4 linked regions of the Homo sapiens genome follow. The protein of the gene in region 1 interacts with the protein of each later gene in a pairwise test. Each region holds a gene or a part of one and is shown in the gene's direction. Other genes may lie near its edges. The genes, in order: TMEM201, KCNJ9, PTPN5 and DNAJC1.

Region 1 (7,030 bases):
TCTGGTGATCCGCCTGCCTTGGCCTCCCAAAGTTCTGGGATTACAGATGTGAGCCACTGCACCCGTCCTTTTTTTTTTTTAAACAGAGTCTTGCTCTGTCACCCAGGCTGGAGTGCAGTGGCACGATCTCGGCTCACTATAACCTTGCCTCCCAGGTTCAAGCGATTCTCCCGTCTCAGCCTCCCGAGTAGCTGGGATTACAGGCACCCGCCATCATGCCCAGTTAATTTTTATATTTTTGTAGAGGTGGGGTTTCACCATGTTGGCCAGACTTGTCTTGAACTCCTGACCTCAGGTGATCCTCCCACTTTGGCCTCCCAAAGTGCTGGGATTACAGGCGTGAGCCACCATGCCTAGCCTTTTATTTATTTTTAAATTTTATTTTTTGAGACAGTTTCACACTGTCGCCCAGGCTGGAGTGAAGTGGCGCGATCTCGGCTCACTGCAATCTCTTCCTCCCGGGTTCAAGCAATTTTCCTGCCTCAGCCTCCTGAGTAGCTGGGATTACAGGCACGCATCACCACAGCCGACTAATATTTATATTTTAGTAGAGACGAGGTTTCACCCTGTTGCTCAGGCTGGTCTTGAACTCTTGAACTCCTGACATCAAATGATCCACCCGCCTTGGCCTCCCAAAGTGCTGGGATTACAGGCCTGAGCCACCGCACCCGGCCTCCAAATAACTGTTTCCATCATTTTGTGAAGTTCTCACCAAAAATTCCTATTGTGAGGTTTTTTTGTTTGTTTTGTTTTGTTTTTTGAGACGGAGTCTCGCTCTGTCGCCCAGACTGGAGTGCAGTGGCGTGATCTCGGCTCACTGCAAGCTCCGCCTCCCGGGTTCACGCAATTCTCCTGCCTCAGCCTCCCAAGTAGCTGGGACTACAGGCACCTGGCTAATTTTTTGTATTTTTAGTAGAGACGGGTTTTCACCGTGGTCTCAATCTCCTGAGCTCGTGATCCGCCCGCCTCAGCCTCCCAAAGTGCTGACATTACAGGCGTGAGCCACTGCGCCCGGCCCCTATTGTGATTTTAATTGGAGCTGACATAAATGGACAGATAACTGTGGCAAAAGTTAACCTTAAAAGTACAGTAGTAAGTTATTCAGACCAGGAACAAGGCAGACAGAATGAGAACCAAAGGCCCCAGGAGAGGGTCCACCTGGTGCCTTGCTGTGCAGACGTGTGGCAGGGCAGAGGTAGCACGGCTGTGTCCCAGCTGCAGACTGGAAACCACATATCAATCAGACCCAGGTCACATCTAGAGACACAAAGGGGTGGATAGGAGTTTCCTTGTAGGGGTAGATTTTACTACTTAACCTCCTTGCTACCATACCAGATTTTTTAAACAACCAGAATATTCTATCAACTGAGTACTATGATAAAAATTAGTTTTAGCCAGATGGTCTTGGGCTCAAACCCTGGAGCCACTGCATACCAGATGTGGGCTTTCTACGTGGCCCTGTGCAAGTTTCTCAGCTTCCCTGAGTGTGGTTTCCACAGCTGTAAATGGGTCCAGGGCTTAGGAGTGCACCACCAAGGCTGCTAGGAGGACGAATGCAAGTGCCAGGAAAGTGCTGAGAAACAGGAGGGCCACCCCTAAAACCCATGCTCAGATACGCACATAATAAACGCGTGGTGATACCAGTCACTCTCCCGGGACACCCACCCTGGATGACATGAAGGGGCCTGGGGAGCAGGGTAGGGAGGTGGCCCCATGGGCATGTTGCTTCCCCAGAGTAAAGGAAGGGGCTCAACTTGGCTGGGCGCGGTGGCTCACACCTGTAATCCCAGCACTTTGGGAGGCCGAGGCTGGTGGATCACCTGTGGTCAGGAGTTCAAGACCAGCCTGGCCAACATGGTAAAACCCCATCTCTACAAAAAAAATACAAAATTAGCTGAGTGTGGTGGTGGGCGCCTGTAATCCCAGCTGCTGCGGAGACTGGGGCAGGAGAATCGCTTAAACCCAGGAGGAAGAGGTTGCAGTGAGCCAAAATAAGGTCACTACAATATGGAAAGTCTTCTTTAAAAGGAGAGGGTGGTAGAGCAGCACTCCTCCCCGCCCAGAAGTGAGGCGGGCCGGTGGAACTGAGTGGTGAGTTTTTGAACCAAGCCCAGGATGTGTGAGAACATGGGTCTGGCCAGAACCCCGCACAGACTGGCACCGGTGATGGCTGGGGGTGGCTCTGTGGCCGTCTCACTAACCCGCCTCTCTTCCTCCTTTGCAGAACTTCTCCTCCGCCGTGAAGTCCCCGGTCCAGGTCATCCTGCTCCGTGCCCTCGCCTTCCTGGCCTGCGCCTTCCTACTGACCACCGCGCTGTATGGGGCCAGCGGACACTTCGCCCCAGGCACCACTGTGCCCCTGGCCCTGCCACCTGGTGGCAATGGCTCAGCCACACCTGACAATGGCACCACCCCTGGGGCCGAGGGCTGGCGGCAGTTGCTGGGCCTACTCCCCGAGCACATGGCGGAGAAGCTGTGTGAGGCCTGGGCCTTTGGGCAGAGCCACCAGACGGGCGTCGTGGCACTGGGCCTACTCACCTGCCTGCTGGCAATGCTGCTGGCTGGCCGCATCAGGTGTGCATGGGGCCAGGGCCAGGAGTTGGCGGGCAGGGGACTGTGTGCTGGATTACTGTCTAGGGCGGGGGCCAAGAGACCCCATTGGGTGCACAGCCCTAGGCTGAACTCCACCATGTCACTGGTACAAGGCTTGGTCCCAGGGGCTGGGAGTCGTAGGTGAGGTGAGGCTGCAGACGCCCTCTGAGCCAGCCCCGTGCACACCCGCTGTGGGCTGGGCCGGGTTGCCTCCTCTCTCCTCCTCGGGCTCTGTCAAATCAGGATGACGATAACCACCTGCCTCCTGGGTTGTGGGGGCTCACGTGGGGGCCTCTGGGGTTCCCTGAGTGGGAGCATGTCCTGTGAGTGCTGTGTCCCCGTCGCCCCTGCTCACCGACTCGGAGGAATTTTCCTTAGCCCTGTTTTAGGCTAGAACTTACAGGCTGAGGAGAAACACTGACCCACCTGCTCAGAGCCAGGTAGCGTGTGAGTGTGAGGGGATTCCGAGCCCACACTGTCCCCTGGCTCTGGACTCTTCTGAGCAGGGCCAGGTATAGACAGAGGAGGCAGGAAGGAAGGCGTGGACCCAGGAGGTCTTGTCCTCCCCTGGGGTGACCCCGCTGCTTCCCTTTCAGGCTCCGGAGGATCGATGCCTTCTGCACCTGCCTGTGGGCCCTGCTGCTGGGGCTGCACCTGGCTGAGCAGCACCTGCAGGCCGCCTCGCCTAGCTGGCTAGACACGCTCAAGTTCAGCACCACATCTTTGTGCTGCCTGGTTGGCTTCACGGCGGCTGTGGCCACAAGGAAGGCAACGGGCCCACGGAGGTTCCGGCCCCGAAGGTCAGAGAAGCAGCCATGACTGCGGGGGGAGGACACACGGATGCTCAGGCCCAGGCTTTGCCAGGTCCGAAGCGGGCCCCTCTCTGTCCTGCCTCTTTTCACCTGCTCACGCCCTCCCACCCCCACCCTACAGCCCCAGGTCCTGGCCCAGTCCCTCCACTGCCTCGAAGAGTCAGTCTGCCCTGCCTTTTCCTTTCGGGCACCACCAGCCATCCCCGAGTGCCCTGTAGCCACTCACCACTGCTGCCACCTCTCTGGCCAATGGCCCTTTCACTGGCCTGGTGACTGGAATGTGGGCAGCGCCCACACAGGCTCTGGCCCATGGCTTCCTACTGGCAGCTCCAGGCACCCCCCTCTCACCACGCCGTTTGCTGGCTCTGACACTGTTGGGTGAGGGTCCTGGTCCTGCTGTCTTCCCTTCTGGCCTCTGCACAGGGGTGGTGACAGTGGCTACAGGCTGGGCCCCTGGCGTGCCCTGACCGTGCAGCAGAGTGAGGCTGGGGCAGCAGAGAGCCCCAGCCTCACCCCTGAGGAGCACCTGTGGTCTGTCCCCTTGGTCCTGCTTATGGCTGGACCGGCCCTGCAGGAGGTGGTGGAGCCGTGAAGGAGGCCGAGCTGCAGCTCTGGCTGCTGCTTGGCCTCCTGCTCCAAGACCCTCCCGAGTCCCCGGAAATGGAGAGTGCAGTTCTTGGGCCCAGCCTGGCCTTCGCCATGAGTTTGGGGAGCGAGACCCCACCTGAGACAGGCAGTAGGAGCCTGTGCTGACCTTGGGGAATCTGAGCTTTTCCAAGGGTAAGGGGCCCAGGGTATGCAGGCCTTCAGTGACATCAGGTCGTTGTCATCCTTTCCCTCCCTGACCTGTCACGAGCCTCTGCAGGTGCCTGCTCACCATGGCCCAGCGCCACTCTGTCCTCCGACTCAGGTGAGGGGGCAGCCCACAGACCTGCTCCTCAGTAGCAGGGCCTGGCCAGGCCCCTGCTGTTCTCAGCCTCAGTTTGCCATCTATGAAATGAGGTGGACCCCTCTCCATAGCCCTTGGGTGCCAGCTCAGTGGGTGTGGGGATCACATGAGGTGGCTCATGAGGACACACTCTGGAAGTCGAGGGGCTGCCACGTGCAGAGGAAGTTCCCGGCCTGGGGGCTTTATCCAGGGGTCCCAGTCGAGAGTGGCCCGAGGCCGTCCCTCACCGGGCATGTTCCCTCTGGCTGCCCACTCCCTCAGGGCCCACATGTCCTGCCACTCGCCACTCTGAGCACGAGTTCACCTTCCAGATGTGGCCAGGGTGTGCCAGCTCCTCTCTCCTGTGCGTTGGAACCCCGGGGGAGGCAAGAGCAGATCACAGGTGCATGAGGGTTACACCCGTCACCTGGGTCTGCCGGGATGGGTTGGGGGGGCAGGTGCCAGGCCTCACTGCTGTGAATCTGCCACGCCTGGGGGTCCTAGAGGCTGCCCCACCCCAGTGATTGGGTAGCAGCTCACATCCCACCCAGCTTCACAAGTGAGGAACCCAGGTGCATCGGGAGACCCTCGGGGGCTTCTGTGGCCTCTGTGCCCGATGACCTGCGTGGCTTCAGACAAGGCCCCAGCGTTACTGGGCTCAGCTTGTTGTTCTGTGTGGAGCGTGAGGTGAGAAAACCCCTCTGAAAAGATGTGGTCGGGGCCACGCTTCCCACTGGTTCTGCAGTGAGGAGTTGGGGCGGGTGAGCCAAAGCGGCCCCCCATGGTGTCTACCTGAGGGGCAGGGAACCGCCTGCCTGTGCACTCACGCCACCCCCCAGCCCACAAAGAGCCCATCTGAGAGAAGGACGTGGTGGAGCCAGGACGGGAAAGCGTCCTGTCGGCTGGCCATGCTGTTGCTTGCGTCTCGAATCTTCGGTTCTCGAGGAAGTGTTGACAGTGTGATGCTAATGTCTGCTTTTCTTGGCGTTGGGTAGAAGCAGGACATCTGTGTGTATGTGCGTATTTAAATTAGATTATTTATAATAACCAGAGCCAGCCCTCGCGCTGGCCAGGATCCTCCTGCCGAGCTGATGTCGCTCCTGCCCTCTGCCGGGGTCCGGAAGCGACATCTCAGGAGGTAGCTCTCAGCAGAGTGAGGATTCCTGCCTTTCGTAGAGTTTTGTGTGACTTTTTAAATTATTCATGTGTCCCTTAAAAGTTTCACTACGTGGAGAAAATTCCAGCACCAAGTGTTGTGGCAACAGCTGAGAGAGTGCAGGCACCACTGTGTTGTGGCTTGTTGACCGGGAATGTGTCACCCCTGCCAGGGAACTCTTCTCCTCGCGGGGGACTTGGGATGGCCATCAGACCTTCTAGGGTCTGGCTGGGGTCATCCTAGGTATGGGTGACCGTCCCTGAGACATAAGCGAGGTAGATTCAGCCATCCTCACCCTCAGACTTGAGGTCCCCACCCAGGCCAAGCCGGCCCCCCGTACCCCTTGCCTGGGAGCAAACCGCCAGGACGCAGCCTCCACGCCGCACCTGCCACATTCAGCCCTGCCCAGGAAGGAACACATGACCCTTCTGTCTGTGACTGTTGCTGAGTCTCTGTCTCATGTCGTAGAATTGTGGATAATTGTCTAGTGACCCTCTCATCACTGTAACCATCGCGCCTGGCCTAGATGTCGTGTTTTGGATGCTGTGTTTTCAATAAATGCCTCTGGGGCCCTGCTTTTACCCGCTGGCGTCAGGTGCCGCGTCTTTCTTCTTTTTTCTTTCTTTCAGAAGGGCTCTGTGCCAGGGCTGGGGTGGGCAGCTGTGTTTGGGGTACAGACACGTCCACAGGAGTCAGGTTTGGGAGCCAGTGACAATGACACCAGCTGGCTCGGGGCCCGGCTCGCCTCCTCGCCTTTGCTGGATCATATTTTTTCCGTCTCAATAAACTGTTGCTTAAAACGTGGTCTCTCTCCTTCCACTCCTGATGTGGGCTGGGATTGGGTCGGAGAAGACCAGACATCTCCCCTTGGTGTCAGATGAGCGTATCCGCTCCGGCACTCCCCAGAGCCAGCATCCAGGCCTGATCCTGGTCACTTAGTCCCTCTCTGACACTCCCCAGAGCCAGCATCCAGGCCTGATCCTGGCCTCTTAGTCCCTCTCTGACACTCCCCAGAGCCAGCATCCAGGCCTGATCCTGGTCTCTTAGTCCCTCTCTGAGACGTGGTTTGAGGGCACAGGGCAGTCGGGGGGGGTCTCTCGCCAAAGGAAATGTTAGCACCTTTGGAGTTCTCCAGGGTCCAACAGATTGGGCTCCTTTAGCTGGCGGAGGCTCGCTGGGGCGCCTGTACAGAGCCCAGCCCCTCATGCCCAGCCCTGTGAGCGATTTACGAGGTCTTGCTGGTTGAGTGATGTTCCCACATATCACAGTGAGGGAGTCAAACTGCGAAGGAACTCCCCACAGCACCATCTTCAGTGGCACCAAACTGGGAACAACAGCCCCTGTGCCAGGTGGCCAGGAGATTCAGCCTTTAAGCACTGAGGCAGCCCCGGGTGGTGTGAGCAGGAGCTGGGAGGAGTGGGGATGCACTGGCAAGACCCAGCCACTCCTGCTAGAGCCCACCCTTTGGGGCCAGGAGCTGCGTGGCCCAGCTGACCACCTCATACCCACAGCCCACTAGGACCCTCCTTTCACACATCCCCC
Region 2 (6,951 bases), about 150 Mb from region 1:
TCTGCTGTCTTCCCCATCATGCTTCCTCTTCCACTTGCCAGATTTTGCACAAGATGTCTCATGATCTTGTCCAGGGAAGCCTCCCCAGTTTGGCTGATCTCAGGGCTGCCACAAAGGCACCTGCTGATGGGGCAAGTTGAGGACTGAACTGCATTCAGCTTGCCAATTCCTGCACCCAGCTCAGAGCTGTGTCTGCTGGAGGAAGGGAACCTTTTATTTTCTCCCAAAAGTATCACCTGTTCCCTGTTCTCCAAGTGACAGGCCACAGTAGGCTCTTTTTAAGCTCTTTTCCTATTTTGCACCACGGTTCCTTTTTTTTTTTTTTTTTTTTTTTTTTTTTTGAGACAAGGTCTCACTCTGTTGTCCAGGCTGGAGTGCAGTGGCGCAATCACGGCTCACTGCAGCCTTGAGCTCCCAGGCTCAGGTGATCCTCCCACCTCAACCTCCAAGGTGGCTGGGACCACATGCACATACCACTACACCCATCTAATTTTGTATTTTTTGTAGAGACAGGGTTTCGCCATGTTGCCCAGGCTGGTCTCCATCTCCTGGGTTCAAGCGATCCGTGTACCTCAGCCTCCCAAAGTGCTGGGATTATAGGTTCGAGCCACCGTGCCAAGCCAAAAGCTAGAATCTTGTCTATGCTTTTGTGTCCTGGTGCCTGGGAAAACTTTTTTTCTCCTGCCTCAGTTCAGCTCAGTGATAAATAAGGAACTGAGGTTAGATAACAGGTAAAGTCTAGGACCTGCAGGATGAGTGAATCAGGTGAGGGAGTGGTAGTCTTCTTCCTTGTCAGCCAGGCTAGGTTCAGGGGCACCTGGACTGAGGCGAGGGGCTGGCTGAAATTGCCTTGTGGAGGGCCCTGCCAGTGATGCCCCCTCCAGCAAATAGGGCCAGCTCTATGCAAATGTGTTCTTGCCCAGGAGTTTGGTTTCTTCTCTCTGAGCTCCTGGCACAGTGGAACCAATGTGAGCAGCTGCTTGGCAGGACAGAGAAGGGCAGGCTAGCAGTCCCAAAGCTCGGGTGACAGGACCAGGCCCAGGAGACGGGGATGTTGACTGGGGCTTTAACAGCACTCTTGATGCCAATCTCGGGCTGAAAACTCGATATTTCCACTTGGAACAACAAGAATCACCAGCAAGAGAGCTGAGGAGAGGGCAGTATACCGGGGGCGCCCCCTGCAGGCCTCACAGGGTGGTGCCAGAACAGAGGAAGGTGGCACAGGCAGGGTGGGGCTTTCAGGACATCCCTGAGATGATGGTGATGACAGTGACAATGATGATGACCATGAAGAAGACAATGAGGAGGAGGAAGAGGAAGACAGTAGCTAGCATTTACTGAGTACTAACAATGTGTCAGGCATTGCCTTATGTAGTCTTCATGACAACCCTCTAAGAGATGAATAATATGGTTTTCTTTTTTTTAGATGAAGAATCTGAGGTTTAACGGGTTAAATAATTGCTCAGGTTCACCCAGCTAGTAGTGGACAGAGGTGGGATTTGAACCCAAGTCATTGCCTCCTGAGCTTATATTATCCAGTACCGAATTTCCCACCTTGCCAGGTCATTCCAGGAGCTTCTAGCCCTCCGTGTCCATCTCTATGTCTTCCTGCTCCTCTAGCTCATATTTTCTTGATCCAAATTTAAAGGATCTGGATAAGAATAGATCCATATCTGGGATATAATAATACTGATAACAACAGCAACAACACTTTGCGTTTGTAAACCACTTTCTTCTCTTCATTATTTCCCTGGGGAAAAATAAACAATAAGATATTTCTGTTTCTCCAAATTTTGTTCTGATTTTTATCAGTGTTCCTGAAGCTATTTCAATATAGTCATGATCAATTTCTAAGAATATTTTTAGGTTCTGCTTTTTTATGTAACAGTGTGTTATATACACATTCACATATTTAAACACAGCAATTATTATGGCTTTACAGTAACCCATGATATTAATATTCCACAGATATTACATTACTGAGGCACACTAGGCTAAGGCTGACAACACCAAATGCTGGCAGGAATGTGGAGCAACAGGAACAGGAATTCGTGGCTGATGGGAATGCAAAATGGTACAGCTACTTTGGAAGAAAGTGTGGCAGTTTCCTAAAAAACTAAACATACTCTTACCATACGATCCAGGAATCATGCTCCTTGGTATCTACCCAAAGGAGATGAAAACTTACGTCCACATGAAAATCTGCCGATGGATGTTTATAGCAGCTGTATTCATCATGGCCAAATCTTGAAAGCAACCGAGATGTCCTTCAGTAGGTAAATAGATAAATAAACCATGGCCATCCTGAAATGGAATATTATTCAGTGCCAAAAAGAAATGAACTACAAAGCCATGAAAAGACATGGAGGAACCTTAAATTTACATTACTAAGTGAAAGAAGCCAATTTGAAATGGCTACATATTGTACAATTCCAACGACATGACATTCTGGAAAAGGAAAATTATGGAAACAGGAAAAAGAGCAGTTGTTGCCAGGGGTTAGGGAAGGGGGATTGACTAGGCAGAGCATAGAGGACTTTTACAGCAATGAGACTATAATGGTGGATACACATCATTATATATTTGTCCAAACCCACAGAGTGTACAACACCAAAAGTGAACCCTAATGTCAGCTATGGACTTTGGGCGATTATGATGTCAATGTAGCTTCATCACTTGTAACAAATGTGCCATTCTGGTGGATGTGTGGGGACAGGGGGCATACGGAAAATCTCTATAACTTTCCTCTCAGTTTTGCTCTGAATCTAAAACTACCCTTTAAGAAGTCTTCTTTTAAAACAATTTACAAAGCATGAGGTGATACAGATGTGGGAGTTTGGCTCCTGTCTCTGCCCAACTCTGTGACATTCGATAAATTACTTAACATGTCTCTGTTTCAGTTTCCTCATCTATAACTGGGAAAAATAACACCTGTCTTATAGAGTTGCCATGGGGATGACATGAGGCATGTGTCTCGTTCATATCCCATGCTCAGTGAATTAGTAGCAGCAGCCACTGTGTGTTTGTGTGTCTTTATCCCTCCTGGGTTAATGAGCTCCTTGTGGGCAGGGACTCACCCATTCTGTAACCACCCCATCTAACACACTGCCTGGCACTTGGGCTCCGCAGAAGTTTGCCGAGTGAATACTTAGTAAGCCCTAACCTAGGCTTTTCTCTCTGGTGGACATTTGGGTTGTTTCTAGGGTTTTTGCTATGAATAAAACACATTTCAAAGCCCTTTGTGGTTTTTTTGGTTTTTGTTTGTTTGTTTTTTCTTCGTTTGATCTGCTGACTCTGTGAAGCAGGCAGAAAGGGGATATTTGCTCTTGTCCACACCCTGGTACAGATGGAATAACTGTGGCTCAGGGAAGTGAAGTGACTCCTATGGGACACAGTGCAAATCAGTGGCAATAATTAGAACCCCTGACCCTGCCTCCCTTCCTTTAGTAGATCTATTTTCCTTCTAGCTACCGCCTTCTGGATCCATGGCCTCTCCAAAACTAGACCATGATGGTCAGCCTGACCTGAGAGCAGCACCTGCACGCAGAGACCCATGTTGAAGGTGGTGAGCTGCCAGCTACCAGATGGCCCTCTGAAACCCCAGGGAACCTAGCACCTTATTCTCAAATACATGAGGGCTTGTATTTTCCCCCAGGAAGGAGCTTCTTAGGAAAGAGCCAGCGTGCCAGCTTTGTTTTTCTTTCTTCTTCTTTTTTTTTTTTTCCTATGAGGGGGTGAGGAGCCAAGCTCTGAGTTGTCCAGGAGGAGGGACTTTGGCTAAAAATAGCTATGGCGTGTGGTTTGGATCAACCCCTAGTGGTACCCAGGACTGGGGAGGGGAGGGGGATGCTCTGGAGCTGTCGCCAGACTGGTTGCCGTGGAAACAAGAGAGGAGCAGGGGAGCCTGGGAAGTAGGGATGACACAGATAGCAAGTCCTAGTCAGAGCTGCCGCTACATTTAGGAGAAACAGCGGTGTCTGCGGCTCCCACCCTTCGGGGGGCCCGTGGGGGGGGCGGTGTCAGGGGCATGGACGCCACCCCCCAGGGGTCTCTGCTGCCGGCTACTCTCCTCTCCACGTGCTGTGAGTTGAGTTGCGGGGGACTTGGGGTTTGGGCCCCTATTTCCAAGGCAAGTGGGGGTTTGGGAGGAGCTGGTTCTTGGGGGAGTTTTCACCAGGTCTCTCCTTCCAAAAAATGAGCCCCCTTACTCCCCAGCTCTCTAGAGGGAGGAAGAGGGGCCCAGGAAAAGTGGTATTGCAATCTTCTGCAAAGGGGTCATAGCATGCACAAGAAATGAGGAGTAGGTTGGAGGAACTGAAATTCTTGGAGGGAAGATGGAGAAATCAAGTCCTTGATCTTGAGATAGAGGTAACAATTTCACACTTTTCCTTCCCCTGAGAAAAGTGCAGTCCCCCACTCAGGAAGACAGGATGTGGGACACATTCAAAATAAGGTTTACCTAGATCCCTGGGGCAATGGAGAGTGAGAGAGTTCTGGGGGTGATCCGACATCGGGGTTCCTTCCCCATCCCTGGGCAGAGAGATCTGTCTAGGCAAGCCGACTGGGGGTCAGATTACCTAAGACCCTGAGAGAACATCTGGAAGCCCACCTGGGACTAAAGCTAGGATAATGGGAGCAGGGTCGTTTTCTGCATGACCTGGGGTCTCTGAGCCAGTCAATGCTTACTCTTCCTGAGGACATCTGAGCTTCAGGGAAGGAAAAGGAAGCCCATTGTTGGGGGCAGGGGAAACCCTAATCTTCCATTGCCATGGGGCTCTTGGACCCTGTGTCCCCTGACTCCATGGACAATAAATGCAGGGGGTGCCCCTAAGCTCAAAGCCATTTCATTTTGATTTCTCTTCCTACCTTCTCTACCCCAAGACACACAAACACACACACACACACCCTCTCCAGAGTGCTGACTGCAGAGGACCTCACCCCAGAACATAAGATGCTGGAGTGCTAGGTTTAGAGTCACATACCCAGGCAGTTTCTCCCCAGGACCTGGTCAACCATCCAGGCCATCTGTGGTTCCTATGGCACACTCCTCCATCCCCCACCCACTAGCCAGCCCACGTTTCCGTGGAGTGGGAGGAGAGGATCATTCCCAGGAAAGAGAAGGGAAGGTGGAAGAGTCCCAAATCCTATTCTAAACCTTTCCCTGTATGGTCCATATCTCCTAGAGGACCCTGGGTGCTTTGGGGAAGGGCTCTGGACCTCTCTCAGAGCAGATTGCAGCTCAGAGAGCTCCTCAGAGGCAAGCATGTGAAGAAAAATCAGGTGGGCTTCGCTTGGAATGTGGGCTTTGGGGCATATGGCAGGTGGGGGCGGGGCTGGTGTTAGGATAGTCCATGGGAAGTAAGAGGCTGGGGGAAAATATAACTAGAGGGAGTGGGGAAATAAATGTGGGTGCTTAGTGCTTCACCTGATCTGATTCCATGTCTCTCATGAAGAATAGGATCCCAGAGGGATACGAGCCTAACTCTTTATAACTCTGGGCTTCCTTTCCCAGGCTTCTGTGTTGGGATCTTCCAGTTCCCCTCCCCATTTGCAGGCTGTCTCCACTAGGAGAAAAAACCCAAGGGAAATGAGGCTGGCCCAAGAGCAGCAGTGATCGTGGGTAGGTCTCAGGGAGGATTTCTAGTGGGAATTTCCTAATGTTCCACCCTTGTGCACTGGAGGGTTTCCACTGACTTTCCACAGCTTTCATTTCTTTCTCGTTTGTAAGCATGTTGAGGGGAGGGAATGGAGCGGAGTGAGTGAGGTCCAAGGAGGGAAGAATGAGAAAGACTGTGTATCAGTCTTGGGGTGAACTTCAAAACAGCCTGCGAGGAGAGCCATTGGTGGCTGCACTGGCTACAGCTGGGGAAGGGATGGTGGAAGTCCTTAGGGCAGGGAGGGCTCCATTACCCGCCTGCCCCCCTCCCCAAAAAGCCCCCAGTCTATTGATTTCAGGAAATCACTAGGGGGATCTGGGCCTGGGTCTTTGGCCCCGGGGCTGCCCCTGAGGTGCTGCACACCCCAGCTGGAGGTGATGGCACCAAAATATCTGGTACCTCCTTCCCCTGAAAATCATCGTGGAACTTGCACAGTTCTATCCAGTTCAGGTACATCATTCCATTTGACCCTCACAACTTTCTGAGCCTGGGGGGCAGTTAGGGCTGAATGTGTTATTCCCAGAAATAGAGGCCAGGCAACACGAAGGGACTCGCCCAGGGCCCCCCAGGGCTCGGTGCTGGCCCTGATGCCCCGTGCCTCCCCATCTCCCGAGGGGCCACTCATTCGGCAAACCTTTATTAAGCCCCTCCAGGACCCCCGACGCCGCCTAGGCGCCCAGCGACGCGCGGCAGGTGGCAGCAGCTCGGGCCCCCGCCGCACTCCAGGCGCCCGCAGCGCTCGCCCTGACGCGGCCGCCATGGCGCAGGAGAACGCGGCCTTCTCGCCCGGGCAGGAGGAGCCGCCGCGGCGCCGCGGCCGCCAGCGCTACGTGGAGAAGGATGGCCGGTGCAACGTGCAGCAGGGCAACGTGCGCGAGACATACCGCTACCTGACGGACCTGTTCACCACGCTGGTGGACCTGCAGTGGCGCCTCAGCCTGTTGTTCTTCGTCCTGGCCTACGCGCTCACCTGGCTCTTCTTCGGCGCCATCTGGTGGCTGATCGCCTACGGCCGCGGCGACCTGGAGCACCTGGAGGACACCGCGTGGACGCCGTGCGTCAACAACCTCAACGGCTTCGTGGCCGCCTTCCTCTTCTCCATCGAGACCGAGACCACCATCGGCTACGGGCACCGCGTCATCACCGACCAGTGCCCCGAGGGCATCGTGCTGCTGCTGCTGCAGGCCATCCTGGGCTCCATGGTGAACGCCTTCATGGTGGGCTGCATGTTCGTCAAGATCTCGCAGCCCAACAAGCGCGCAGCCACGCTCGTCTTCTCCTCGCACGCCGTGGT
Region 3 (5,401 bases), on another chromosome or scaffold:
CCAACACTCTGTAGCAGCAACCCTGTTGCCCTTGTGTATCTCTCCGCTGGCCCTGAAGAGAGTGTAGAGAGTTGTGGGAAGGGAACAGGATTGTATGGCAGCCTGATCTGGGCCCCTGCAGAAATGCACCGAGTATTGGCCGGAGGAGCAGGTGGCGTACGACGGTGTTGAGATCACTGTGCAGAAAGTCATTCACACGGAGGATTACCGGCTGCGACTCATCTCCCTCAAGGTGAGGCCTGGGGCAGGGCTGGGTGAAGCTGAGGATGAGTGTAGGGGCTTAACTGGGGGCTCCACAGAGAACAGGTCCCCCAAGTCCACTGTAACTGACATAAAAGCCAGTGTCACTCCCAGATTTTCTGATAATTACGGATGAGTGAGAGGTGAATGGACTTGGGAGCCAGAGGTAGAATCAAACCCCTTGCATTTCCCAGTCCTCAGTTACATTTCATGCTGTTGGGCTCTCTCTGTCTCTCTACTCTGTCATTCATAATGCATTCTAGCTATGCTTCAAATGTACCCAAGGCCAGGACTGTCTGGATGAGGGGACTTCAGCAGCCTCCAGCACTGTGCTTATAATTGAGGGTTCATCATGACTTTGAGATCCTCCTTAGAAACATCTCTTCACCTGGGATCCTGGGCTTCTGGCCTGTAGTGCCCAATCTGTCCACAAGAGGGCAGGCACTCTTTGCTGCTTTGGGGTTGTACAGGGGGCTGTGGTTACAGAAAACAGCAAGAAAAAGGAAGACACACAAAATATGAGCAATACAAAACAGCCCAGAAGAGTGGGAGAAGGTATCCTCCCACCCTGAAGTTGTGCTTCCTCCAGGATCAGCATAATAGAGGAGACTGTTCCTTTGAAATCGGGATTAGTGGATTCTGTTTGTGAGAAATAAGACCCATGTTTAGGGAAGGCTGTAATTGTAATAACCCCAAAGGCTGGAAGAGGTGAACCAGGCATCAGGAAGCTGATGCCCTATCCAGGAGCAGCCAAGGAAGTTCATTGATGCTGACAGCCACAGGGGTTACTGAGCACAAGACCGGAGACTTGGCCCTCTGAGCTGTTCCCTCTCCCACTGAATAGGGGCCAGGTAGGGTGTCGAGAGCATCTCAGCCCCCAAGAGCAGTGCCCCCACAAGCAGCTCTAAGATCCAGGTCTTGTTGGAGGGCATGAAGGGCCAGGAAGTGAAAAGCAGAAGTAGTGGTCACTGTCACAGCCAGGTAACTCAGGACTTGAGAAAATGGCTTCCTGAGTAGAAATTCCCCAGAAAGACAGGCTGAGATGAGGCAGGGCTGCTCACCTTCTCAATGCCATGGAGATGATGAGGGAAGAACCAGGGCATCTTGGAGTTTGAGGGAATTTACTTTTGTCCATAAGACATTACGAGCACCTGGCCTGAGCTTGGTTCTGGGTTGGATACTGTGAACACAGAGCTTCCCAAAGCTTGGACTCTTTCCTTGAGAAGCATTGTATAAGATGGTAAGTACTGAGCTAGAGATAGGTATATAGAATATAGGATATGTATATCATATGATGTTATATTGGATGAATATAGGATATGTATATCATATATGTATGTATATATGATATACATATCCTATTATACCTATATATAAAATATATATAATATAAATATATAATATATAAAATATATATAAAATATAAATATATATATAGGTGTGTGTGTATATATATATGTATAAAAGAAGGACACTCTGCCAGCTGATGTGCTCAGGGAGGGCTTCCTGTACATGGTGGTGCTGAATGGGGTCTTGAAGGATAAGTAAGAGTTGACCAGGGGCAAACAAGTCAGGAGAACATTCCCAGTGAGAAAATAATAAAAGTAAGGACATGGAAGATGGAACACTTGTGTGCATGTATGTGTGCACATGTGTTTGTGTGTGCTGCTGAGATTTTACCTACAAACCTTTTGGAGTGTGGGAGCATTGAGTACAAGTACGCAGGGGCAGGAGGTGTGTCTGGAAGGGCAGGCCCTGTAGCAGTTGTCTTCCTAGCCAGGTGAAGGACTGAGGAGAGTGGGTCTTATTCTGAGAGCAGTGAGAGACATTGAAGGATGTTGTGGTCTGCTCAGGCTGCTATAACAAAATACCATAGACCAGGTAGCTTGTAAGCAACAGGTTTATTTTTCACAGTTCTGGAGACTGGGAAGTCCAAGATCAAGGCACCGTGACCCTGGTGAGGACCCACTTCCAGGGTCATGTCCTCACGTGGCAGAAGGAGTGAAAGCTCCTTTTGTAAGAGCACTGATCCCATTCGTGAGGGCTCCGTTCTCATGACTTCATCACCTCGCAAAGGCCCTCCCTTCAAATACCACCATGTTGGGATTTGGTTTCAACATGTGAACTTAAGGGGACACACACATTCAGTCCAAAGCCACAGGTTTTCAGCAGGAGAGCAGCATGTCCAGATGTGTGTTGTACACAGACTATTTTGACTCTGTGGATCTGAGACAGTTGGGGATGAGGCAGAAATCTCCCACACTCGAGCAATGATAAAGGTCAAGGTGGCAGTGAAGCGGGGAGTGTGAAGAGGTGGTAAAACTTGCAGCACTAATTGCAGCACTAAGATAGAGGCGAGTCACGCAGGCGCAGGCGAGGCACAGCAAGAGGCGAAGAAGAGTCCCGGGGCTGGGTTATGTGACAAAGGGATGACTGGGGGACCATTTGTTAAGATAAGGAACCCTGGAGATAGTAATAAATTGGAGAAGGGGCTCTTGGCCCCTCTTGGATGATCCTGAAGTTGTTGGGGCAGGACCAAAGGCAAGATCCATGCCAACGCTGCTGACCAACCCCCAAAACCAAGCTGGCTTTGGGTCTGTGTCTGGTGCCACTGGGCAATGTGGCCTAGATGGAAGGGTGAAGGGGTCCCACTCTCAGTGTTCTTCCTGTGTTCTTCCTCCTTCCATCTCATCTCTATCTCTGGGCTGGTTTGTGAGCTGAAAGAGTTCACACATACCTGGGGTGGGCCTCTGTCTCCTCGACAGAGTGGGACTGAGGAGCGAGGCCTGAAGCATTACTGGTTCACATCCTGGCCCGACCAGAAGACCCCAGACCGGGCCCCCCCACTCCTGCACCTGGTGCGGGAGGTGGAGGAGGCAGCCCAGCAGGAGGGGCCCCACTGTGCCCCCATCATCGTCCACTGCAGGTGGGTCCTCCCAGCCAGCCACTGGAGCGGGGCAGCCCCCCACCCGCTGGGCTGCCCTGCCCCTCACCCCACCGGTCCCCTCGGCCCTCAGTGCAGGGATTGGGAGGACCGGCTGCTTCATTGCCACCAGCATCTGCTGCCAGCAGCTGCGGCAGGAGGGTGTGGTGGACATCCTGAAGACCACGTGCCAGCTCCGTCAGGACAGGTCAGCCCACGGGCGGGAGTGGGGACACACAAGGGAGCTAGAGCCCCGAGCGGGTAGAGGGAGAGACCCACATGTGCATGGGCGGGGGGTGAGGGGCAGATGGAAAACACTGGCACGGACTGATGGGCAGACAAGGAGTAGCGAGGACAGCTGGGTAGAGGGGCAGGATCCAGACAGTGGGGGGCCAGATGAAGAGGGAAGAAAAGCAGAGCTGGTGGATAAAAGGACAGAGGCCGAAAGTGGTAGGACATGTCATCTGTGTCCCTGATAGGAAGGGGCAGAGGGTAATGGTTGGCAAGGGTTGGTCTCTCCAAGACGCACAGGGGCAAGGCCTGGCAAGTGATTGCTACTCCATGGCTTTTGGGGCACCTCCCACAGCCCATCCCTCCACGACCCTGCCCCCACTGTGCATCTCTGCCGGGCAGGGGCGGCATGATCCAGACATGCGAGCAGTACCAGTTTGTGCACCACGTCATGAGCCTCTACGAAAAGCAGCTGTCCCACCAGTCCCCAGAATGACTGCGCTTCTCCTACAAGGTTCTCTGGGCACTGCCCAGCCTGAGTCTCGGCCCTCACCCAGGGCCCTGCCTCGGGTCCTGGGCCTGCTCCCCGCTTCCTCCCCTTCAGTCAGCTCCCTCTGTCCTCTGTCAGCCTGGCCTGACCCCTACCCTCCAGCATTGCTCTTCCTACTGTACATATTGGGGAGTGGGGGGCAGGGTCGGGAAGGGACATGCCAGGCCAGGCCTGGGGCCCCGGGGCCTGACCCACACCACGCAGACCCCGGGCTCCAGTTTTTAACGATGGTTCCATCAATACCTGATCCAGAATGTTTCCGTGCTACACTTTGTGTCCTGCTGCAATGTGTTCTGTCTGTCCATCCATCTCTGCCCTCTGTACCGGACACTGTGTCTCCTCAGCCAGGAAGGGGTAATGAGCTCCAGCCCCTAAGCAACCGGACTTGCCTGCCTCGGCCTCACCCGCACTTCTCCCAAAAGGCAGATGACGGGGAGTTAGGCATGGGGAGCTCCAGAAGGTCACCAGAGAGCTTTCAGCTGAGGGAGAGTTCTCTAGGTTGGAGTGGGCATCACAGCCAGGGTGGCCTCTGGGTGTCAGATGCTCTCAGGAGGGTGCCCAGCCTGTGAGGCACTGGCAAGGTAGGGGGCAGATGGGGCATGGAGAACCCAGAGGATCTAGGCCCTGTTGGGGAGGGGAGGGGAGCTCAAGGTTTGGGTGGGGACTCAGCCCAGATCTACGTGAGACATTTTTCTGTGTCACTGTGGGAAAGCCTTCCCAGAAGTCTCACTGCGTGTTGCTCTGCGTGTGTTCCCATGTCCATGCGTGTGTTGAGAGCCCATCAGGAGGGCATGCATGACTCTTTGGCAACATGTATTATCTTGGAGCCACGTGTTTTTATTGCTGACTTTAAATATTTATCCCACGGCAGACAGAGACATTTGGTGTCTTTTTATAATTCGCTCGTGGTCATTGAATAGAGCAATAAACGGAGCATTTTGAGCAAAACTAACCTCCTGGGTCTGTGTGATTTGCCTCTCCCCTCCACTGCCTTCCTTCCTGTACTTGGGTCTTTGTGCCCCTCCCCAGCATGAGCACAGTGAGCTTGGCCCTTCTGCTCACTGGAGCCCCTTGTGGAGACTGGGAGTATGGAGCGAGTCCAAATTTGTAAAGCCAAACTGGGAACATTCTGCAGGATTCTCACACAGCCTCAGCCCTGGCCCTGACACATGCTCTGGGCCATGGGGAGCCTCAAGGACAGGTGTGGAAGGCTTCCAGGGAAGGCACAGTGGCTGGCAGGTCACCATTTCCAACAGATGTGCCAGAGAAGCCAAGGCTAGGGTAAGGAGACATTCAGGTCACACCCAGGCCCCTCCCTGTTGGCCAAACTCTTATCCCATGTTAGCTCCACAGATCCCAACAGCAGCTGCAGCCCAGTAATTTCCCTTGTAAGGCCTGGGCTCAGAGTAGCTCCTCCCAAGGGGCCCAGGGAATCTGCATGTGGGCTGAGATCCTGA
Region 4 (7,030 bases), on another chromosome or scaffold:
ATAAGTTCTCATAATTTAGCTCTCACTTGTAAGTGAAAACATATGGTATTTGGTTTTCTATTCTTGGTTTAGTTTGCTAAGGATAACAGCCTCCAGCTCCATCCATGTTCCTGCAAAAGACATGATCTCATTCTTTTTATGGCTGCATAGTATTCCATGGTGTATATGTACCACATTTTATGGCTGCATAGTATCCCATGATGTATATGTACCATATTTTCTTTATCAAATTGCTAATTGATGGGCATTCAGGTTGATTCCATGTCTTTGCTATTGTGAATAGTGCTGCATTGAACATCTGTGTGCATGTGTCTTTACGGTAGAATGATTTACACTCCTCTGAGTATATACTCAGTAATGGTATTGCTAGGTTAAATAGTAGTTCTGCTTTTAGCTCTTTGAGGAATCACCATACTGTCTTCCATAATGGTTGAACTAATTTTCACTCCCACCAACAGTGTATAGGTGTTCCCTTTTCTCCATAACCTTGGCATCATCTGTTATTTTTTGACCTTTTAGTAATAGTCATTCTGACTGGATAGAGATGGTATCTCATTGTGGTTTTGATTTGCATTACTCTAATAATCAGTGATATGGAGCTTTTTTTCATGTGCTTATTGGCTGCATGGATGTCTTCTTTTGAAAAGTGTCTGTTTATGTCATTTGCCCACTTTTTAATGGGGTTGTTTGTTTTTCTCTTGTATATTTATTGAAGTTCCTTATGGATCCTGGATATTAGACCTTTGTCACATGCAGAGTTTTCAAAAATTTTCTCCCATTCTGTAGGTTGTCTTTTTACTCTGTCGATAGTTTCTTTATGCTGTGCAGAAGCTCTTAAGTTTAAATCTCAGTTGTCAATTTTTGCTTTTGTTTCAATTGCTTTTGGTGTCTTTGTAATGAAATCTTGGCCCATTCCTACATCCAGGTTGCTATTGCCTGTGTTGTCCTCCAGGTTTTTTATAGTTTTGGGTTTTATGTTTAAATATTTACTCCATCTTTAGTTGATTTTTGTGTATGGTGTAAAGAAGGGGTCCAGTTTCAATCTTCTGCATATGGCTAGCCAGTTATTCCAGCACCACTTATTGAATAGGGAGTCCTTTCCTTATTGCTTGTTTTTATCAGCTTTGTCAAAAGTCAGATGGTTATAGGTGTGCAGCCTTATTTCTGGGCTCTCTGTTCTGTTCCATTGGTCTATGTGCCTGTTTTTGTACCAGTACCATGCTGTTTTGGTTATGTAGCCCTGTAGTATTGTTTGAAGTAAGGTAGTGTGATGCCTCCAGTTTTGTTTTTTTTGCTTAGGATTGTCTTGGCTATTCAGGCTCTTTTTCATTTCATATGAATTTTAAAATAGTTTTGTCTAGTTCTGTGAAGAATGTCGTTGTTAATTTGATAGGAATAGCATTGAATCTGTAAATTACTTTGAGCAATATGACCATTTAAATGATACTGATTCTTCCTATCCATGAGCATGGGATGTTTTTCCACTTGTTTGTGTCTTCTCTGATTTCTTTATTTGAGTTTTGTAATTCTCGTCATAGAACTCTTTCACCTCCCTGGTTGGCTGTATTCCTAGGTATTTTATTCTTTTTGCGGCAGTTGTGAATAGGATTGCCTTTCTGATTTGACTCTAGGTTTGGCTGTTGTTGGAGTATAGGAATGCTAGTGATTTTTGTACATTGATTTGTATCCTGAAACTTTGCTGAAGATGTTTACCAGCTAAAGGAGCTTTGGGCCGAAACTATGGGGTTTTCTAGATATAGAATCATGTCAATTGCAAACAGGGACAGTTTGGCTTCCTCTCTTTTTATTTGAATGTGCTTTATTTCTTTCTCTTGCCTAATTGCTTCAGCTAGGACTTCCAATACTGTGTTGAATAGAAGTGGTGAGAAAGGGCATCCTTGTCTTGTGCCAATTTTCAAAGGGAATACCTAGTTTATTGAGAGTTTTTTTTAACATAAAGGGGTGTTGAATTTTATTGAAAGCTTTTTCTGTATCTATTCAGGTAATCATGCAGTTTTTGTCTTTAGTTCTGTTTATGTGAAGAATCACATTTATTAATTTGCTTATGTTGTACCAACCTTGCTACCTGGGGTTGAAGAATACTTGATTGAGGTGGATTAGCTTTTTGATGTGCTGCTGGATTCAGTTTGCAAATATTTTGTAATTTTTGCATCACTGTTAATCAAGGATGTTGAACTGAAGTTTTTTTGTTGTTGTGGCTCTGCCAGGTTTTAGTATCAGGATGATGCTGGCCTCATAGAATGAGTTTGGGAGGAGTCCTTCCTCCTCAGTTTTTTGGAATTGTTTCTGTAGGAATGATACCAGCTGTTTGTACATCTGGTAGAATTCAGCTGTGAATCCATCAGGTCCTGGCCTTTTTTTAGTTGGGAGCCTAATTTATTACTGATTCAATTTTGGAGCTCATTATTGGTCTATTCAAGGAATCAATTTCTTTCTGGTTCAGTCTTAGGAGGGTGTATGTGTCCAGGAATTTATCCATCTCTTCTAGGTTTTCTAGTTTGTGTGCATAGAGGTTTCTGTAGTAGTTTCTGTTGGTTATTTTTACTTCTGTGGGGTCAGTGGTAATGATGACACCCTTCATCATTTCTAATTGTGGTTTTTGGGGTTTTCTCTCTATTAGCCTAGCTAGTAGCTTACCTATCTTGTTAAATTTTTTTTTAAAATCCATTCTTGGATTTGTTTATCTTTTGAATGGATTTTCTTGTCTCTGTCTCCTTCATTTCAGCTCTGATTTTGGTTATGTTTTGTCTCCTGCTATCTTTGCAGTTGATTTGTTCTTGCTTCTCTAATTCTTTCCGTTGTGATGTTAGGTTGTTAATTTGAGATCTTTCTGACTTTTTGATGTGGGCATTTAGCGCTATGAATTTCCCTCTTAACACTGCCTTAGCTGTGTCCCAGATATTCTGGTATGTTGTATCTTTGTTTTCATTAGTTTCAAAGAACTTCTTGATTTCTGCCTTTATTTCATGATTTATCTAAAAGTCATTCAGGAGTATGTCATTTAATTTCCGTGTAATTGCATTCTTTTGAGCAAGTTTCTTAGTCTTCTGTTTTTATTGCACTGTGGTTTGAGAGTGTGTTTAATACGGTTTTGGTTCTTTTGCATTTGCTGAGGATAGTTTAATGTTCAATTATGTGATCAATTTTAGAGTATGTGCCATGTGGCAAGGAGAAGAATGTATATTCTGTTGTTTGGGGGTAGAAAGTTCTGTAGAGATCTATCAGATCCATTTGGTTCACTGTTTAGTTTGGGTCCTGAATATCTTTGTTAATTTTCTGCCTCAGTGATCTGTCTAATACTGTCAATGGAGTGTTGAAGTCTTCAACTATTAATGTGGGTGAGTCTGTGTCTCTTTTTAGGTCTCTAAGAACTCGCTTTATGAATCTGGGTCCTCCTGTGTTGGGTGCATATATATTTAGGATAGTTAAGTCTTGTTGAATTGAACCCTTTGCCATTATGTATTGCCCTTTTTTTGTGTTTTTTAATCTTTAAATTAGGATTGCAACCCCTGCTTTTTTCTGTTTTCCATTTGCTTGGTAGTTTTCCCTTCATTTCTTTATTTTGAGGCTAAGGGCATCGTTACTTGTGAGATGGGTCTCTTGAAGACAGCATGCCATTGAGTCTTGTTTTTTTATCCAGCTTGCCACTCTGTGACTTTTAAGTGGGGCATTTAGCACATTGACATTCAGGGTTAGTATTGATATGTGTGGATTTGATCCTGTCATTGTATTGTTAGCTGGTTATAATGTTGGCTTGTTTGTGTGGTTGATTTATAGTGACACTGGTCTGTGTATTTTTGTATTAGCTTATAGCAGTATTTCATTTCTGTATTTAGTGCCCCTTTATAAATGCTTATTTAAAAAGACATCACTTGCAGTTGTGATGAAACACCCCAGAAATAAATACAAACAATTGAATTTATTTGCTTTTTAAAAAAATAACTGATTCTCTATATGTAGCCCAAATTACTTCTGCTATTGCTCTACTTCAATGGTGATTTCATACTTCTCATTGTAAAAGCATCATCAATAATTATTCAGTCATTTCTCCTAATAGTGTTTACTGTGTTAATAGTTTCATCTCTCTATGAAGAAATAGTAAATAGTCATACACACACAAATACATACATACCCACATACAGTTATATTTGAGTACTTTTGTTTCTGGGAGAATTGCTGGGGAAAAGGCTGTATATGTTAATTTTAATGGATATGTTTAGACTGCTTTCCAGAAAGGCTCTAATAGAATAATACATTTCCTCCACCAATTTAGAAGTAGCCTTTTCCCTGCCAACAGTACATCTGAATTAGATTTTAAATTTGTACCCATATGATTGGTATAAAATTATATCTTGGTATTACTTAATTTGTATTTCTTTAACCTTTAGAGTGTATGAGCCTCTTTTCTTATTTGTTAGCCACGTGGGCACTCAATTGTGGATTGCCCATTTATGACCTTTTGCCTATATTTTTCTATTGGGTGGTTGTCCATTTATAAAATCTGTTTATAGCAATCTTCTGTTTATACTCTGAATTGGATACATCCTTTCCAAATCTATTATTTGTCTCTTGATTTGTTTACTCTTTTATCTTTTTTGTAACAGCATCTGGGTTTTCATTCTTATTTAGATGTCCCCTTCCTTTAAATAGTACAAGTAGATTTTAAGATTTCTTTTTGCAAAATTTTTATTGTTTTGGCTTTTAAAGTCAACTCTCTTCTCTATCTGGAATTTATTTGTGTATACAGTGTAAGAGTTTTCTTTTAAATGGATACTCAGTTGTGTAAGCATTACTTAATAAATTGTTTTCCCACTAAATTGAAATATAGACAATCCTAGACTTATAATGATTTGACTTACAATTTTTTGACTTTATGATAGTGCAAAAACAATACTGTACTTTGAATTTGGAATCTTTTCCTGGACTAGCAATATGCGGTAGGATACTCCCTCATAATGCTGGGTAACAGCAGCAAACTGCAGCTTCCACTTAGCCATATGATCATGAGGATTAAAACTGATCCTCTACAGTGTACTGTGTCACTATGTTATTTTGCCCAACTATAAGCTAATGTAAATGTTCTGAGTACACTTAAGGTAGACTAGGCTAAGCCATGAAGTTAGTTTTATTAAATGCATTTTCTAATTAAGGATGTTTTCAATATATGATAGGTTTATCAGGATGTAATCCCATAATAAGTCAACAAGCATTGGTATTTACAGATTCTCTATTCTCTTCTAGGAATTTGTCTATTCCTATGCCAGTATATACTGATTTTGTTACATTGGCAGTATAGTACATGCAAATACACACATACACACGTACACATGGGGTGGTGAAAATACTCTTATGAGGCTGAGTTTGACTATAGTAATTAAGAATGGAGTTGCTTCTCAATGTCAAGTCTCCAGTTAAAATGGTGTGTGTGTGTGTGTGTGTGTGTGTGTGTGTGTGTGTGTGTGTTTGAGATAGAATCTCACTCTGTCACCCAGGCTGGAATGCAGTGGTGTGATCTTGGCTAACCCCACCCTCCACCTCCTGGGCTCAAGTGAGTCTCATGCCTCAGCTTCCCAAGTAGTTGGGATTACATGCATGTACCACCACACGCAGCTAATTTTTGCATTTTTAGTAGAAGAAGGGTTTTGCCATTTTGCCCAGGCTGGTCTCGAACTCCTGGCCTCCAGTGATGCACCTGCCTTGGCCTCCCAAAATGCTGGGATTAGAGCCGTGAACCACTGCTCCTAGGCCTAAAATGGGATTTAATAAAGAGCCCAATGGATGGCCATCGATTCATAACTACTCTTGATGTTGCCAGATCATATTTCACCTTTGTAAAATATTGAAAAATAAATGTATACCATTTAGTGAGAGCCAGGTTTTTTTTATAGATGAGAAAGTTGATACTGTTCTAAGTGTTAATTTATTTGCCCAGTATTATTTACTTATTACATGGTAAAGTTAGGGTTACAATATTAAATTGAAGCTCTTTTTATTGTGCCAAAATGAAATATTTTATGAAAAGTACTTTGAAAACAAAGGTGTATGCAAATTGATATGATGGCTATCTCATGATCATCTCCACAATAGTAGCAACTCTGAGTTTTATTTAGAAACAATGCAATGGTTTATGTACAATAAAAGTTATAGCCAATTATTTATAACAGAACAATTATATTTTGATGTTTTCTTTCAGGATATGGTCTATGAATAAAATGTTAGAAATTAATTTTATTCTTTAAAAATCTCAATAATTGGTTCTTTTAAACATTTTTTAGAACAGAAGAAAGTTAAAAAACCAAAACCTGAATTTCCTGTATACACACCTTTAGAAACTACATATATTCAGTCTTATGATCATGGAACTTCCATAGAAGAAATTGAGGAACAAATGGATGATTGGTTGGAAAACAGGAACCGAACACAGAAAAAACAGGTAAATAAGCTTTATAAAACTTGTTTTGAGTAAAACATGTACAGAAAAGCACATAAAATACAGGGTTAGCTCACGATATAGTGCTTTGTTTTATTGCACTTCACAAATACTATTGTTTTGTTTTGTTTGAGACAGAGTCTCGCTCTGTCACCCAGGCTGGAGTGCAGTGGCGCAATCTCAGCTCACTGCAAGCTCTGCTTCCCGGGTTCATGCCATTCGCCTGCCTTAGCTTCCCAAGTAGCTGGGACTACAGGTGCCCACCACCACGCCTGGCTAATTTTTTGTGTTTTTAGTAGAGACAGGGTTTCACCGTGTTAGCCAGGATGGTTTTGATCTTCTGACCTCATGATCTGCCCCCCTCGGCCTCCCAAAGTGCTGGGATTACAGGTGTGAGCCACCGTGCCTGGCCGGTTTTTTTTTTTTTTTTTTTTTTTTTTACAAATTGAGGGTTTGTGGCAGCCCTGAATTGAGCAAGTTTACGGGCACCATTTTTCCAAAAGCATCTCCTTCCTTTGTGTCTCTATATAACATTTTGGTAATTCTTGTGGTATTTCAAACTTTTCATTACTATAACAT

The links.
Region 2: the proteins of TMEM201 (region 1) and KCNJ9 interact in binary tests that used the Homo sapiens proteins (3 or more experiments, as listed by UniProt).
Region 3: the proteins of TMEM201 (region 1) and PTPN5 interact in binary tests that used the Homo sapiens proteins (3 or more experiments, as listed by UniProt).
Region 4: the proteins of TMEM201 (region 1) and DNAJC1 interact in binary tests that used the Homo sapiens proteins (3 or more experiments, as listed by UniProt).

What each region holds. Positions count from the first base shown.
Region 1 is NC_000001.11:9,598,881-9,605,910, forward strand, and holds part of TMEM201 (transmembrane protein 201), read left to right. Parts: intron 1-2,224; coding exon 2,225-2,574; intron 2,575-3,188; coding exon 3,189-3,392; coding exon of another isoform or gene 3,393-3,411; exon of another isoform or gene 3,412-6,069; intron 6,070-7,030. UniProt on the Homo sapiens protein: Critical regulator of angiogenesis and endothelial cell (EC) migration. Promotes the migration of endothelial cells, which is essential for angiogenesis.
Region 2 is NC_000001.11:160,077,616-160,084,566, forward strand, and holds the start of KCNJ9 (G protein-activated inward rectifier potassium channel 3), read left to right. Parts: upstream 1-3,922; 5' UTR 3,923-4,082; exon of another isoform or gene 4,083-6,244; coding exon of another isoform or gene 6,245-6,415; coding exon 6,416-6,951. UniProt on the Homo sapiens protein: Inward rectifier potassium channels are characterized by a greater tendency to allow potassium to flow into the cell rather than out of it.
Region 3 is NC_000011.10:18,727,423-18,732,823, reverse strand, and holds the end of PTPN5 (tyrosine-protein phosphatase non-receptor type 5), read left to right. Parts: intron 1-121; coding exon 122-232; intron 233-3,005; coding exon 3,006-3,166; intron 3,167-3,257; coding exon 3,258-3,371; intron 3,372-3,796; coding exon 3,797-3,890; coding exon of another isoform or gene 3,891-4,513; 3' UTR 4,514-4,896; downstream 4,897-5,401. UniProt on the Homo sapiens protein: May regulate the activity of several effector molecules involved in synaptic plasticity and neuronal cell survival, including MAPKs, Src family kinases and NMDA receptors.
Region 4 is NC_000010.11:21,881,706-21,888,735, reverse strand, and holds part of DNAJC1 (dnaJ homolog subfamily C member 1 precursor), read left to right. Parts: intron 1-6,296; coding exon 6,297-6,454; intron 6,455-7,030. UniProt on the Homo sapiens protein: May modulate protein synthesis.